Linked DNA regions of Homo sapiens. The protein of the gene in region 2 binds, or shares a complex with, the protein of the main gene of each other region. Each region holds a gene or a part of one and is shown on either strand. Other genes may lie near its edges.

Region 1 (7,734 bases), on a different chromosome or scaffold from region 2:
AGAAAAAAAAATCAACTAAGCACCATTTTCCTGGAAGTCAATACTGTGACTAGGTGGTAATCGGTTCACATAATAGGTGGGAGTTATTGTATAGGTTTAGGGTTACATTGGATAAAATAAGAAAAATGAAGATGCAGAGACTGAACTCTTCCTGAAAAAAAGAGAGCTCAAGGTTTCAATCTCTCACAAAGCAGTTGCCAACCTTTTCAATCACTTCTTGGATACATTGGCCCCATTAATCCAGGAACCCAGAAACATCTTACAAACATCAATTAAGTCTGGCAACATGCTCTATTTACAAATAGAGAAACTTGGGTGTTTAGGGACAGAGAAGCCCAACAATGAGTCAGGGCTGCTGTGGGCACTGGACCCAGGACTCTGGAATCTCCATCTCTGGCAGGGAGATGTGATCTACCTCTCAAGGGGATAAAATGTCCACATAAGAAACAGGTGGCAGAGAAGGAAGTGAATACACACATGTTGGGATGGCGCAAGACAACGGATGGCCAACAGCACCCATTTGAAGCTGAAGGGAAGCCAACCCACCACCCCCAGTGTCATTTAATCAGATGGAAGATCAGCATTGCTGCAGCCCCTCCTTAGCAAAAACACTGCTCACCTTATGGCTTGTAAATTGATGCTGTGAGATACCCCATCCATCCTCACATCAAGGCTAGTTTTATCTGATGTGAGTTCAGAAATGCCTATTCATCTCTGGCCAGGTAAGTTTGCATCATCAAATATTCCATTTGCAAGCCTACATGCTGAAATGGAACCCACCCCACAGTAAAGGGAGCCTCCAGAGGACAAACCCTCTGGCTTTTCCTGTCTCCCACAGAAGGGAAAGTTAAAAGGCTATGTATATCTAAAACACACAAAGCAAATCAGTGTGATTCCTAGACTATAGGCTTTCGGTGCTAACTGACTGGCCTGTGTATTTAAGATCTAACAAAGTAACCAGCTAAGCTAATCGAGGCTAGCTTTGGCATACTAGATGAACATAATCGAACGTTCCTTTGGGTGAAGCACTGCCCTTTCCGAACACCTGTGAAACAAATAATTCGGTAATATCATGGAGTGAATGGTTTTTGCCCAGTTTTTACTGCAGAAGTGAAATAACCTGACACAATCTTTGGGAGCTACAGGCGAGCAGACATCCACCAGGATTAGGACCAGAGAGAAGAACTCTACCAACTCCAAAAGGAAACAATGCCCAGTTCTGCTCCGTCAAGGGCCCACCCGGGCTCCTTCCAACCTGGAGAAATCTTTACTAACATGGGGCCCAGGGCACACACCACACTGTTGTAACATTCTTTCTGTAGGGGCAAATTCTCTTCACCAACCCCCTAGGCAAGTATGAGGTAGGGGAAGGGGTTAGCAAGTCATGTGACAGCCGGCAAACGCCATTCCCCTCCCCCAACCTCCACCCACCCCGCATTGTAAAGGCGTTGCGCCCGGGGTTAGCCTTTAGGGTGGGGGTGTCAGCTGGTTTCATGCCTCCTGTTCCTCTGCCCTGCGCCCTGGCCCAGTCATTCTCGGCTCGAAGTGTTCTTCTATTCAGTGAAATACCCAGGAGGCCTTCCACCCAAGCGAAGGCGAGTATCAGACACGGGCTACCACCCTAGTAAGAAGAAGGCACCTGCCCACGTATAGTTGGAATTCATCTAAAATTCACTTAGTGCTTACTGTGTGCCAGACGCTGAGGGGCGTCCTGCAGATTCAAAAGCGCCCCAGGCCCGGCGCGGTGGCTCACGCCTGTAATCCCAATACTTTGGGAGGCCGAGGTGGGCGGATCACCTGAAGTCAGAAATTCGAGACCAGCCTGGCCAACACGGTGAAACCCCGTCTCTACTAAAAATACAAAAATTAGCCGGGCGGGCCGGGCGCGGTGGCTCACGCGTGTAATCCCAGCACTTTGGGAGGCCGAGGTGGGTGGATCACGAGGTCAATAGTTCAAGACCATCCTGGCCAATCTGATGAAACCCCGTCTCTACTAAAAATACAAAAATTAGCCGGGCGTGGTGGCGCACGCCTGTAGTCCCAGCTACTCGGGAGGCTCAGGCAGGAGAATCGCTTGAACCCAGGAGGCGGAGGTTGCAGTGAGCCGAGATCGTGCCACTGCACTGCAGCCTGGCGACAGAGTGAGACTCAGTCTCAAAAAAAAAAAAAAAAAAATTAGCCGGGCGTGGTGGTGCGCGCCTGTAATCCCAGCTACTCGGGAGGCTGAGGCAGGAGAATCACGTGAACCTGCGAGGCGAAGTTTGCAGTGAGCTGAGATCGTGCCATTGCCATTGCACTCCAGCCCGGGCGACAGAGACTCTGTCTAAAAAAAAAAAAAAAAAAAGCGCCCCAGATACGGCCCCTTCTTCCAAGAAGACCCAAAGCTGGCAGAGCTGGGCGGGACAGCCGCAGAAGGGGAAGCCAGGTGAGAACACCAGCACCGGCCGAGGGCTCCGTCCCGAAAGGCCTTCCCCGCTGCTGCCCGGCTTACTCTCGAAGGGTCCAGCGCCCAGACCGCCCTGCCGGAGGGGTCCGCGCCCCCAGGCCGGGCCCTCCCCTCCCCGCCCGCACTCACTGCGTCTTCCTGCGGCCCTGGTCGCGGTGCAGATCCCGCAGGTCCACCTCGGCGCGGCCCAGGAACTTGTCGAGGCCGAGCAGCGCGCGGTGCAGCACGGTGAGCTGCAGGGTGGCGGCGGCCGCGGGTCCGGAGGACAGCAGCGATGGCAGCTCGAAGGTGGCCTCCTCGCGCCACACGGGCGCGCCCAGGCTGCGCTCCGACACGGAGGTGGCGTACTTCTCCTTGCCCACCTGGATCACCGCGTACGCGTCGCTCGTGCCCCCGGGGCCCTTGGCCCGCAGGCCCCGCGCCTGCAGCACCGTCACCTGCACGTGGGTTGGGGACCACACGGCCCCCAGGCCCCGGCCAGCCGAGACCATTAGGGACATGGTGACGATAACACTCCAGAAGCGAGGAGAAGATCGCCGCGACTGGCGGCCTCCACGGCCCGCCCCGGCGACCAGGCCACTTTAAGGCTTCCGGCCACACCCCCGCCAGGCCACGCCCCTCATGGCCAAGGCCACGCCCCTGCCCGAGCCGCCTGCTCCACCTGCTGCGCCGCGCCCCGCCCCGCCCCGCCCCGCCCCGCCGGCCTCAGCAGCGCGGGCAGCTCCGGGCACCCGGGCGCCGGAGGCGGGGCTGGCGCGGCCAGGCAGGCAGGGGATCACGTGCGCAGGGGCGGGCGCATCGAGAATCTAATCTGAGAGGTGGTAGGTGACGGATGGGGTCCCCAGCTGCCAAAGGTCGCACGGCGGGAAGGAGCTGGCCGAAGCACTGACTTGGAAGTCAGACCTCATTTCCAGGGTCACATCGCCAGTCGTGGCCTTGCGCGGATTACCTAACATCAAGTCTCAATTTCTTCACCTGACAATCACCTCCTAGGATTGCTGTAAAAAATAATAATAATAATGCATTACAGTTCTTGGCCCAGTGCCTGGCTCATGGTGAGTTCTCAGTAAATAACCATGACCAGCACGTTGGGAGGCTGAGACAGGAGGATCTCCTGAGCCCAGGAGTTCGAGACCAGCCTGGGCAACATAGCCAGATCCCCGTCTCTACAAAAAAAATTAAAAATAATTAGATAGGAGTGGTGGCAAGCGCCTGTGGTCCCCGCTACTTGGGAGGCTGAGTCTGGAGGATCTCTGGAGCCCAGGAGGTCGAGGTGCAGTGAGCCGAGATCGTGCCACTGCACTCCCAGCCTGGGCAACAGAGCAAGACCCTGTCTCAAAAAAATAAAGTTGGTAACTATGAGGGTGCTAAGGAAGATGCCCACCCAATTCACTGTGCTTTCTACTTCTCCCGCTGGAAAGCCTTGCTCTGGAGGAAGGCAGCTGCAGAGGAAGGTGAGGACCTTGTGAGGGCCGGAAAAGGGGAAGGTATCCTGGGGAGCATGAGTTCAATGTGGGAGTGTCCTATTTTGCCCTCCCCCCACCAGATAAGGCGAGGCTGAGTTAGAAAAAGGGAAGAAAGGAGGAACTGAAAATGGGATTGCCAAATCAAACATCGGGACAGTGGCAGGCCCCCAGCCCGCAGTTCCCCATTTCTCCCTTGCCAGGCCCTCTTTAGTCTCTCCCTGCCTCTATCCCTGGGCTCCCAGGCAGTCCCTTTCTTGTTCCAAATGCCTAATAGATCGGCTGCTTCCCTTCATTTCACAGGTCCTAGTTCAAAGGCTCAACTGTTTAACGAGTCATCAGATTGGAAAGGTCACTTGGAAGGTTTTAAAGTTTTACAGTTAAGGAAAGACTCAGAAGAGAGGAGTGACATGTCCAAGGTCCCTCTGCAGAGCTGGGACTGGGATCCCAGTGTCCTGACTCCCAAACAGCTGTTCAGTGCATCTCTTGATTCTTCCAGATCCACAGAACCCCAATCTTGGATGGCTACTCGTGTCCCTCCAATCTCCAGGCTCTCCTCCCTCTGGTTCACACTGCACATTGCTTCACTAACCTGCTGGCTGCCTCACCAGCAACCGCGTTACCTTCGGACTGAACAGAGATTTCAAGGTACTCCATTTTGACCCCACCCTACCTCATTCTCCTCTATCTCCCGAACAAACAAACCTGTAGCCCAGACACTTTTTACTTCCAGGCCTTTACGTTGTACCCTTGACTGTCTTTGCCAACCTCCCACTGCAAGGGTTCACTCATATTTCTCCAAGGTTTGACTTCCTATGCCCTGCTGAGGGCAGGGACCAGGTAGTGACTTATTCAACTTGTCTCCTTCACAGCCTCCAGCACAAACCTGGGTGCACAGTAGGTACCCGGGAAGTGCTACTGAACTCAAGAGTTTGCAGGTTAAGTTGGCCAACCATGAGGACCAAGTGTTTCCTTTTACCACGTAGGAAATTAGAAGACAGAGGTATGCCTCAGGTTTGCAACTGAGGGCAGCTGCAGTGTGAGAAAGGCCTGTTTAGTATGTTGGAAATATTTTTTTTCTTTTTTTTTTTTCTTTTTGGAGACAGAGTCTTGCTCTGTCTCCCAGGCTGGAGTGCAATGGCGCAATCTTAGCTCACTGCAACCTCTGCCTCCCAAGTTCAAGCGATTCTTGTACCTCAGCCTCCCAAGTAGCTAGGATTACAGATGTACGACACCATGCCCGCTAATTTTTGTATTTTTAGTAGAAATGGGGTTTCACCATGTTGGCCAGGCTGGTCTTGAACTCCTGACCTCAAGTGATCTGCCCACCTCGGCCTCCCAAGGTGCTGGGATTACAGGTGTGAGCCACTGCACCTGGCCATGTTGGAAATATGTAACGATGATGGGAGGAGTGGGGGAAAGAAGCCAGCAGGCATAGAAGGGGCAAGAAAGCCTAACAGAACTGTGTTGTTTTGGTGCCATTTTCCCTTCTGGATGATCCATTATACTCATTCAACATTATGACTCAGTTAATTTCCATAAAGGCTTCTTGAGGCCAGATGCAGTGACTCATACCTGTAACCCCAGTGCTTTGGGAGGCTGAGGTGGGAGGATCACTTGAAGCCAGGACTTCAAGACCAGCCTGGGCAACACAGCAAGATCTCGTTACTACAAAAAGATAAAAAATAAAACCAATAATTAGCCAGGCATGGTAGTGCGCACCTATAGTCCCAGCTACTCAGGAGGCTAAGGTGAGTGGATTACTGGAGCCCAGGAGTTTGAAGCTACAGTGAGCTATGATTATGTCACTGCACTCCAGCCTGGGCAATAGACCGAGACCCTGTTACGATTTGTTGAGCATTTACTTTGTGCCAGGCATGTGCCGGGTGCTACCAAGTGCACAAAGCTGAATGAGACTCAGTTCCAAGGCACTCCAGCATCATCTAAAGGAAGTCCTGATTACTGTGATGCTTTGGGTGTTTTGAGGAGAGAGCGATTTCTGTAAGTTGGTGGATTTTTGTGAAGTAGGAGGGGCTCAGCTGGGCCCTGAAGGATATATCAGATTTGACAGAAACAGGAGGAGACATATGAGAAGAGCATTTCAGGAGAGAAGAGGAGAACAGCCTACGCAAAGATATGGGGACCAGAGAGTCGTGGCGTTTCCAGGTTTCACATACCCCATTGTGGCTGGAATGTAGGATGCTTTAGGAGGCCACTGAGAATGAGTGGTAGAAATAAGACAGAAATAAGACAGGCTGCGCTCAGACCATGAACACCAGGCTAAGGAGCCAGCCTTCAGAGAACACCAGGCTGAGACCAGGGGAGCCAGCCTTCAGAGAACTTTGAGCAGTGACCTGCTTAGGCTGTTCTCAAATTGCAAGGGAGGTATGAGAAGAAGGAGTCCAGCAGCCAACAGCTTGGCAGGCAGGTCACAGCTAGATGCCTTCATTCATTTTCACCTGGGGATTGTCTGCCTTCTGCCCCAATCTGCCTACCTCTTCCCCATCTTGGAGTCTCTTCTAAGTTGGTACTGAATTAAATAAGAGGGTATACACTTTCCTCTTGATTATCCTACCTGTCCAATGTTCTACTACACGCCAGCTGGACAAAGTCATAGATTTCAGTTCAAAACTGACCTGGGGAGGTGGGGCACAGCGTCTCACACCTGTAATCCCAACACTTCGAGAGGCCAAGGCTAGAGGATCACTTGAGCCCAGGAGTTCAAGACCAGCCTGGGCAACATACTGAGATTCTGTCTCTATAAAACAAACTTCAAAAATTAGCTGAGTGTGGTGGCGTCCACCTGTAGTCCCAGCTACTAGGGAGGCTGAGGTGGGAGGATTGCTGGAGCCCAGGAGTTCGAGGCTGCAGTGAGCTATGATTGCACCACTGCACTCCAGCCTCAGCAACAGAGTGGGACCCTGTCTTTAAAAACAAACAAACAAACAAACAACTCAGCCTGGGAGGAAGTTTTTCAGCTCTAGTTCCCCCTCCTCTCCAACACTCACATTTTTAGTGCTGCTCCCCCAATAAAGAAAACAAGGCATAAAACCTAGCTGGACAGCCTCCCCAGCTGAGTATGAAACAAAGCATATCTTCCACCCATGGAAAGGATTAGAGGACAAAGAGGGTGGGGAAGTACCTGTGACCTCATGTGTTTGAGTTTCTGTGAGACACAAATAGACTTTGGTGAAAGCAGATGTGGTAGTTTGGAGGCAGGCACAGCTGCCTCACCACCCAGGAGAAATCCAGACCACTCTCATCAGACACTGACCACTGGCAGGGGTTAGCTCAAAGGAGTGGGGGCTTCCCAAGGCAGGAACTGGAAATTTTTCAGAGAAGGAAGAGGCCGGAGCCCCAGCACCAGGTGTGCCTTGCTGCCTCCAGCTGTTTGGTGGCTGTTTTTTCCCCTCCACCAGCCCAGAGCACGTTGTTCCCATGACTCTGCCCAGGAGTCACCCTCTGTCTTCTCCCAATTTTCCAGACCCAGAATCCAGGCTGGGGGATGCACAGGGACAACAACAAGGGCAGTGACAAGGCAGGCACCCTGCAGGCCCCTGGCTCCCCACTGGCCCTGGGAAGACTCCACCGTGGCCGCTCCTCCCCACTCCCAAAGGCCAGGCTATGCTGGCCGGCTGAACCCGCGCAGGGTCACTGAGTTCCAGGAGTGTTTGTAAATACCTCCCGCAGCCAGGGTGCGGCAGAACAGGAAGGCTGCTCCTTCCTCCCATCCTGCCCTGCCTCCAGCTTGGACTGAAAGAGGAAGAGTTTCAATCAACCCTGAGCACATGGACAAGCCTGGCAGGTTAGACTGGACAGGTGAGA
Region 2 (7,855 bases):
GGCCTCTTAAGTCGAAACCACCAACTTCTGGTCGTCAGCCAAAGGAATGCTTCAATGACAATAAATGAGTCTCCGGTAGGGTGCTTTCCTGGGAAAATTTCAAGCTTGCTTTTTACCTCATTAATGTCATGCCCTCATAAGCTGTGACACGAGAGGATATTTTTTGGGAGGGGGTGGTATAAGGTGTATGGGGAGATGAAAGGGCACTATTTCAATGGACACACAATTTCTTTTACAATTGAATACAGAATGTACTTATTGTTACATTTATGCATCACCTTTTTTTAGTGTGATAAGTTGAATCTAATCCTTTTTCATACCCAGAGACGAATGAGTCTCATGCCCTTGATTTTGATTTCTTTGTCAACCTACTAAATTTTGAAGTATATTAATTGCTGTTTCTGTTTTGGTTAATGTCGACAGCCATACCACCATGACCGCACCTGATCTCAACTTTTTTTGGTTAAACTAGCTTTTTTGACCATTTCTTTTTAATTAAATTATGTATCACTGGAAGTTAATCAACTACATTAAAATATATTCGTTTTTTAAATTAGGTAGAACACACATGTGGTAATAAAATTTAGAGTACAAATTGTATTAGTTCTTCTAAATCTTCAATACTGCTTCAGGAATTGGGACACCAGTATTTTAAAGTCTGAGTGTGGCTCGGTGGCAACTCCAAAACCACTAAACAAAAAAGATTCAAGCATAGGGGTAGGGGGGAATCTCCAATTCAAGATAAGCCTATGAACCAAAATTCACAAGCATAAGAGGAAAATGAACAAATAAAATTAAGCCTATAATGAGGAGATGAATTAATTTTGTTTAAATAAACACAACAGAGAGATCTGAAAATGACTTTAATTGTTTAGGCTCTGGGAAGAGATGAAGGATAAAATAACATCTACTTTTTACAAAACAATTTATAAAAATACAAGCAGAAATGAAGCCAGAGCAGGTGACAAACAACCTGCACACCTGGAGGATTCCAGGCATCTTCCCAGGAACAGGTGACCCCTCACACATTTGCTATATCTTCCAGCAGATGGTTAGCTTGTGTCATTATGCCACACTCCTCTCTGATGGACACTTCTTTGCCGTACTCCAATCTGGGACTAGAAAGTCAAGGTGGGAGGAAGGGATAAGGGGAAGCAACTTCAGCCCCTCTTCATCTAAGGTTCTCCCCACACCATCCAAAGCCCCTCCAGTGCTGTCTCTCTCCATCTGTGTTCTCCTTTGTGCAGGAAGCAATAGGGCAGAGCAGATCAGTGCTGCCCAAACAGATAGATATCCAGGGAGTTGTCAGTCCCATCTTCCTGCAGGCACACCCAATCCTCACTGGTGATTCTTTTGGAGCCCCTCTCCTTTGGTTCTAGATGAGGACACAGTCTCCATGAGGGGACAGAAAGAAGGCGTCTCTTTCCATGACATTACAATTTCCCTAAAGGCTGACTTCCCTCCCATGTCTCCAATCTTTCTTTCCACAGATTACTGGTGATGGTGTGTCTGTGGGGATGGGGTTGGAAATGGGGAATAGGTGAGGGAGTAGTGGAGTGGAGGTAGAAGTTGGTCAAGAGCTGACTTCTTCAACAACTGCTCTTCAAATTCCCTGCTAGAAGGTAGCTGGCCCCAGCCACTGGCAGTTTTTTCAGTGTAGAATGTGAGCTCCTTGTGGGCTTTTTATTTTCAAGTTTGGGCTTCAGCAACAGATCCAGGACAATAGGAAGAGATGTATACATGGAATAAACCCCTCTCAATGTCTAGTTACATAAACATACATGTCTTCTTTGCCCTCCTCTTATAGTTTAACAAATGTTGGCATACTATTTAGTTTTCTGCACCTTGCTTTTTTCCCTCCAAGTATTTCCTAGACATTGTTCCATATCAGGACATATACATGGGCCTCATTCTTTTTGATGGCTGCATAGTATTTCACAATATAGATGTACTATAATTTACTATTACAGCTTTCTAGTGATAGACATTTAGTTTGTCTCTAGTTTTTTGTTATTACAAACAGTGCTGCAGTGACTATTCCATGTATACATCTCTTCTTATAGAAACAACTTTTTAAAAAAGTTAAGTAGAAACCCCAATGGATGTTTGGCACCCAATGGACAGTCCCTCTTAATTATGCTGCAACTGGTCACATACACTCTCCTCACTTTGAAAATTCTGGGACTTATTAAAAGAATTGACCATTCCTACTGTTTTTTAATTGCATTCCTTAGCATGTGATAGGCACTCTGCATCCACAAGAGTGTTTCTGTTCAAAGCTGCATCAAAGTGTAATGTCTTTCACATAGGAAAGCAGCAGTTAGGGACCTGCATTTAAGCTGGCTATTGTGAAACAAGAGCAAATAAGGGAGGAAATGGAATAGGGCTTAGTACAGCCCTGAGGTCACATGTTGCCAGATTTAAGTCCCACCCAATTTTCACCTAAACGACTTTAGATCTGTATGACACTCAGTTTTTTCATTCATAAAATGGGGTAAATATAGTACTGACTTCATGCGGATGTGGTAAGGATTAAATGAGAAAATATGCATGATTCTTAGGACAGTTGCTGGTACATAGTAAGTGTTGAATAAACATCAGCTATACATAAAGATCTCCCTTCAGGTGATAATGGCTATAAGGAAACTTACTAGCCAGGTCTAAGTTCATACCTGGGCAATTAATGATCATTGGTTCACAGTTTTCTCCTTTACTTGGCACAGGCAAATTTCTTAGTTTCAAAAATGTTAAAGTGTGACAACAAACTATACTTATTAAAGAATGTGGAAATAGAAGCCTAGACCTCTAGGGTTGCAAAAGGATTTCAATATCACCTTAGATTAGATTATCATGTAATAATCATTTCCATTTCTTATTATATACCAGATATTTTGCATATACTATCCCATTTAATTTTCACAAAGACCTATTTGAGAGAGATATTACTATTTTCATATTGCAGAAAAGACTGACAATCTCAGAAATCAAGTGACATGCACAACTGCATACCATTAGATTATAGAGCAGGAATTCGAACCCAGGTCTCTGAAAATATGAGATGTACAAACTGGCACACACTTTTACAGTGAAATCTCACTTGTTCATGGCAGAACCAGTTCATAAAAGGTCCTGAACGCTAAGAGAAAGATTGATTTAATTTGGGGGTGGGGAACTAAGGCAGGGCCACCTTATCCATTAGGCACAGTACAGTATGCACAGGGCTTAGGGCCTCCAATACTTTTAGGGGCCAACAAAAATGAATATTTATTTATTTTAGAGACAGGGTCTCCCCATGTTGCCCAGGCTGGAGTGCAGTGGCTGTTCACAGGTATGATCCCATTACTGATCAGCACGGGAGTTTTGACCTGCTCCATCTCCGACCTGGGCCGGTTCATCCCTCCTTAGGCAACCTGGGTGGTCCCTCCCTCCTGAACTTAAGTGCAGACACTCTATCTAGTGACACAGTGCACTACAGCCCAGAACTCCTGGGCTCAAGCGATCCTCTCTCCTCAGCCTCCCCAGTAGCTAGGATTACAGGCGCAGACTACCAGCCCTCCTTGCTTACGTTCCTTTTTTTTTTTTTTTTGAGACAGTCTCGCTCTGTTGCCCAGGCTGGAGCGCAGTGGCGCGATCTCGGCTCACTGCAAGCTCCGCCTCCCGGGTTCACGCCGTTCTCTTGCCTCAGCCTCCCGAGTAGCTGGGACTACAGGCGCCCGCCACCACGCCCGGCTAATTTTTTTGTATTTTTAGTAGAGACGGGGTTTCACCGTGTTAGCCAAGATGGTCTCGATCTCCTGACCTCGTGATCCGCCCGTCGTGGCCTCCCAAAGTGCTGGGATTACAGGCGTGAGCCACCGCGCCCGGCCGGCTTACATTCTTTTAAAGTCAGAAGAAAAAAATGAACTTTCAGGTCAGAGAAAATATTTTGTTATATAATATTGATACGTCATGTTTATATCAATGCAGTTGTAAAATATGTTAAATATTTATACATATATTTAACTTACATGTGTGTGAAATATATGTGTGTGTGTAATGTACAAGCCACAAGGCAAAAGTGCTCAGGGTCCAAGAAAGTCAAAACGTGTCCCTGCACCCGAAAAGCACGAAACCTTCTGGGGCAGTGATTATGGCAGAGCAAGTTGGAAGATGGCAGGTGGTAGACAAATTGTGAAAAATATCACATTTCTCTCACCCTGTCAAAGGCAACCCCAAAGTGAAGTCAAAATAGAGATGAAATGCAGGGTCACTTCCTAGCTGCGTGATCTTGGACAAGAGAGTTGACCAACCTGAGCCTCAGTTTCTCCATGGATACAATGGGGATGCGTGCCTCCGACGTTTGTTGGACAGGACCGGTATATACGAAGCATACAGCGGTATATACAGTAAATGCCCCCATAAATACACGTTGAATGAATGCAGTAAATGCATGCTTAGCATGGTGGCCAGTATACGGTAAGCGTCCAATAAGTGGTAAATGTTGGCTTTAAAAATTGTTCAAAAGTCTCCACGAGCGACAACCCTAGTTCTCCAAGACGCAGGCGCACCCCACCAGGTTCCACGCAGACCTGCGCAGTAGCTCCCCCAAGAGGCGAGGACACGCGACTGCGCTTGCGCATACGCGCTTTCCACCTTCCCTCCGGGCGCGAGCGCCCGTGGGGCGGGCCTCAGCGGCGGCGCGACAAGTCCAGAGGTGAGGGCTGAGGAAGGGGCGTGGCTAGCGGGCTGGCCTCAGCCACCCTCTTCCGGGCTCCGCCAGCTGCGCGCGCATCTTCTCCCCCTTCTTTTGTGGTCCGGCCCATTGCGAGGGTGACAGGAAACCCTGTGCAGGGAGCGCCGCCATCTTGGACCAGCCCGAGGAAGATACTGAGGGAGCACAGGAGCAGTCACCGCTGCCACTGCTACTGCCGCTACTGCTGCCGGCGCGTCTGCACCTCTCGGCCTGCCAGTGTACCTGCCGGCGCCTCGGTCGACCGCCCCCGCCCCCTCTCCCGCTGCGTCCGCACTCCTGTTCCTGGTCCTGACGCCCCCCTCCCGCCCGGAAAGCTGCCCAGCCACCAGCAACCCCCCAGGTAACCCGGGCCTTCCGTAGTGTCCGGCCGGCTGATACCTCCTCGCGCCGGGTTCTTCAGAGGGGCGTGTGTGGGGACGGTGGAGACTGGGCCGCAGGCGGGCGGCGCCCCGGGGCCAGGCCCCGTCAGGCCGTGGCTAGCCCGTGGGTCGGCGGTGAGCGCCGCGGCGCCGGCCTGACAGGACTCCTGGGCGGGGGCGGAGGTGTCCCCTGCGCGGCTCCGGCCTGAGCCTCCTGCCCTCCCCAACCGGCGGGGCGCTCCGAGGCGTGCAGGGAAGGGTGTGTTCCGGCCTCGCCTTCCCCGCCTTCTCGGCGCGGCTGGGCAGGACCGCATCTCCCGCGGGCCCCCCTCTCGCCGCTGTTCCCCGCGGCCGCAGCCCGCCCCCGCAGGGTGTACCCACGCGTGCCGCGCCGCCCTGCAGCCCGCAAGCCCCAGACGTGGCGGTCCCGTCCCGTAGGCCGCGTCTGGCTCTGAGTACAAAGGCAGCTCTTCGCAGCCCTCTTGGCGTCTCGGGGCAGCTCCGGTGTCCTTGTCGATGTGGGGAGCCCGGCCCTGCAGCCGGGCCGGGCCGGGGCCGGGGTCTGGGTCTGTGCGCCTGTGCTTGCGATGTCCTGGTTTTGGTGCGTTCCTGTGAGGCCCGTGGACAGCCTCTACGGCCCTGAACCTACAGAGCATCTAGAAATAAGAGAAAGTTGTGGCATTTCTAGAATCTAAGAGAAGACGACAGAGCTGGAGTGTTTTAAGCGTTTTAACTGTGGGCCAGGTACATATTTATGTATTTTTGTACCTATTTATCTTGCCCCGCGTAGCCCTCGGAGATAAGTTGTCTCCACTTCATAAGTGAGGAAACTGAGGCCTAAAGTTGTGATGTGTGTCTGGCTGTTGATGGTACATTACAAACTGGCTTCGGCTCACACTGTGGCTGGTGGTTTCTGTACTACATTCAAAAATTAGGCTAGGGTTACAGACATGACCATTTATAATGTAGTTACAACTTTATTCCTTTTTTACTGTGTTCGCATTGGATGACAGCTGATTACCCTTTTATGACCTAAAGTCCATAAAGTCAACCACTACACTGGCAAATCCTCATGCTTACAAACCCCAAAGGAGAGATGCCAGGATTTCAGTTTCATATATGAAGAAGAAACGGGTTCCAAGAGGACAGGTGCCTTCCTGGTGACCCCACAGCAAGTGTCAGAGCCCAGATTTGAACTCTTGCAAAGTTTACTGCTCATTTCGTTACTATCCCAACTGCCTTTAAAAAATTCTTTTATTTTTCTAAGGTAAATATTGTAGAGGAACAACTGCCTTTTATTTAGATTTGATTGTTGAAGACAAACTTGACCTTGCAGTAATCCAGCTCCTACCCCTTTATTCCCCCAAGCCTTTCCAAATTTTTTCTTCCAAGTTCTGTTTAGGCAGTTTTATTTGATCATGCCTAGAGGTATGTCGTGGTTAAGAGTTTTGGAGTCATACTGTCAAGGGTTCTCCCTCCAGTACTGCCACTTCCTAGTTAAGTGATCTTAAGCAAGTTACTTAACCTTTCGGACTCAGTGTCCTTATCTATAAAGGGGATAATTGGACCTGCATCTTAGAGTTGTTGCTAGGATTAAATGGGGTTTAAAGAAAGCCCTTAGCACATTGCTTGGCATATAGTAAATCAGTGCCTGTAACAGTGCCAGGCACATAGTGGGTGTTTAATATCTTTTGAATGAATGAGAGAGGAGTATAGCTTTGGAGAGCTACATGTAGAGTTAAACCTGGGCCTTAATTCTAGCTCTCCATTTAGTAGTAGTATGACCACGGGTAGATCACTTCGGTTTCCTTATCTGAAAAATGAGTTTTTAGGATTAGAGACTGTTTATAAAGTAGCTGGCATGTGTTAGGCCCTCAATAAATGGCAGTTATTGTAAAGACGTAAAACCTTAGATTATAATAGCTATTAAAAAATCCCTTGAAATTAAAGCTACATCTTAAAAAGTTGTTGCTTTTTTTGTATTACAGTTAAACTTTATCATTGTTGCATACTTCAACTTTGCAACAGAATTTGGAGTGTTCATTTTTATCAATATCAAATATCTTTGCATAGTCACAGTAAGATATTGTGCTAGTGGAGGAAACTTGATTAAGGTAAATAAAATGTGAAAACTTGGGCTATTGAGAGATGTTTCATGTTTTTTAAAAGAGGCTTGAAACATTTTTATGTGGTAAAAAATGCCAGGCATGGCTAAAGACAACAGTTTGACAAATAGAAGTATTAGAGGTACTGTACTTGACTTTTAAAAAGCTTCTTATTCTAGACAATTTTAAATATATACAAAATCAGGTAGCATACTGAGCATTCATATACCTATCAGCCAGTGTCAACAGTGATCAGTCTTGCTTCATCAATATACACTTGCCTCCTCCTTGCCAAATTATTTTGAAGCAAATCTCAGACACAATATCGGTAGTAAAATTTTCACTATTAATCCTTTTAACTTGAGCAGTAAGTGCAGGGGTTTTTTTTGGCTTTTTGGTTGTTAAGTGCTTTCTTTCTGTAAACAGAGGTCCAGTATTAGAATACTTTATTTCCTGTATATAGAAGACCATCAAAGTTACTTTTGCCACATTAAGCAATCCAGCTTTTAAAAATGATTCACATTATTTATATAAAAGTGACATTAAGTATATTGTCAAAAGTAAGGTTTTTTTTTTAAGTGGGTGGGCTACTTGTACTACTGTTGAGGAAATTGACCACTCATTTTTATTAGATTAGATTATTAGATTAACTACAGAAG

What was found. Proteins that work in one complex are often made in the same cells at the same time.
Region 1: the proteins of RAB14 (region 2) and RAB11FIP1 are in contact, whole or in part, in a crystal structure (PDB 4D0G), measured with the Homo sapiens proteins. Residues at the interface, in NP_057406.2 of Homo sapiens: Leu28, His29, Ile44, Gly45, Val46, Glu47, Phe48, Gly49, Trp65, Arg72, Arg74, Ala75, Val76, Ser79, Tyr80; in NP_001002814.2 of Homo sapiens: Glu1252, Ile1255, Asp1256, Asn1257, Leu1259, Val1260, Met1263, Pro1267, Asn1268, Leu1270, Arg1271, Ile1272.

The regions. Positions count from the first base shown.
Region 1 is NC_000008.11:37,896,496-37,904,229, forward strand, and holds the start of RAB11FIP1 (rab11 family-interacting protein 1), read right to left. Parts: upstream 3,003-7,734; 5' UTR 2,947-3,002; coding exon 2,576-2,946; intron 1-2,575. UniProt on the Homo sapiens protein: A Rab11 effector protein involved in the endosomal recycling process. Also involved in controlling membrane trafficking along the phagocytic pathway and in phagocytosis. Interaction with RAB14 may function in the process of neurite formation.
Region 2 is NC_000009.12:121,198,856-121,206,710, reverse strand, and holds the start of RAB14 (ras-related protein Rab-14), read left to right. Parts: upstream 1-4,841; 5' UTR 4,842-5,072; intron 5,073-5,110; exon of another isoform or gene 5,111-5,228; intron 5,229-7,855.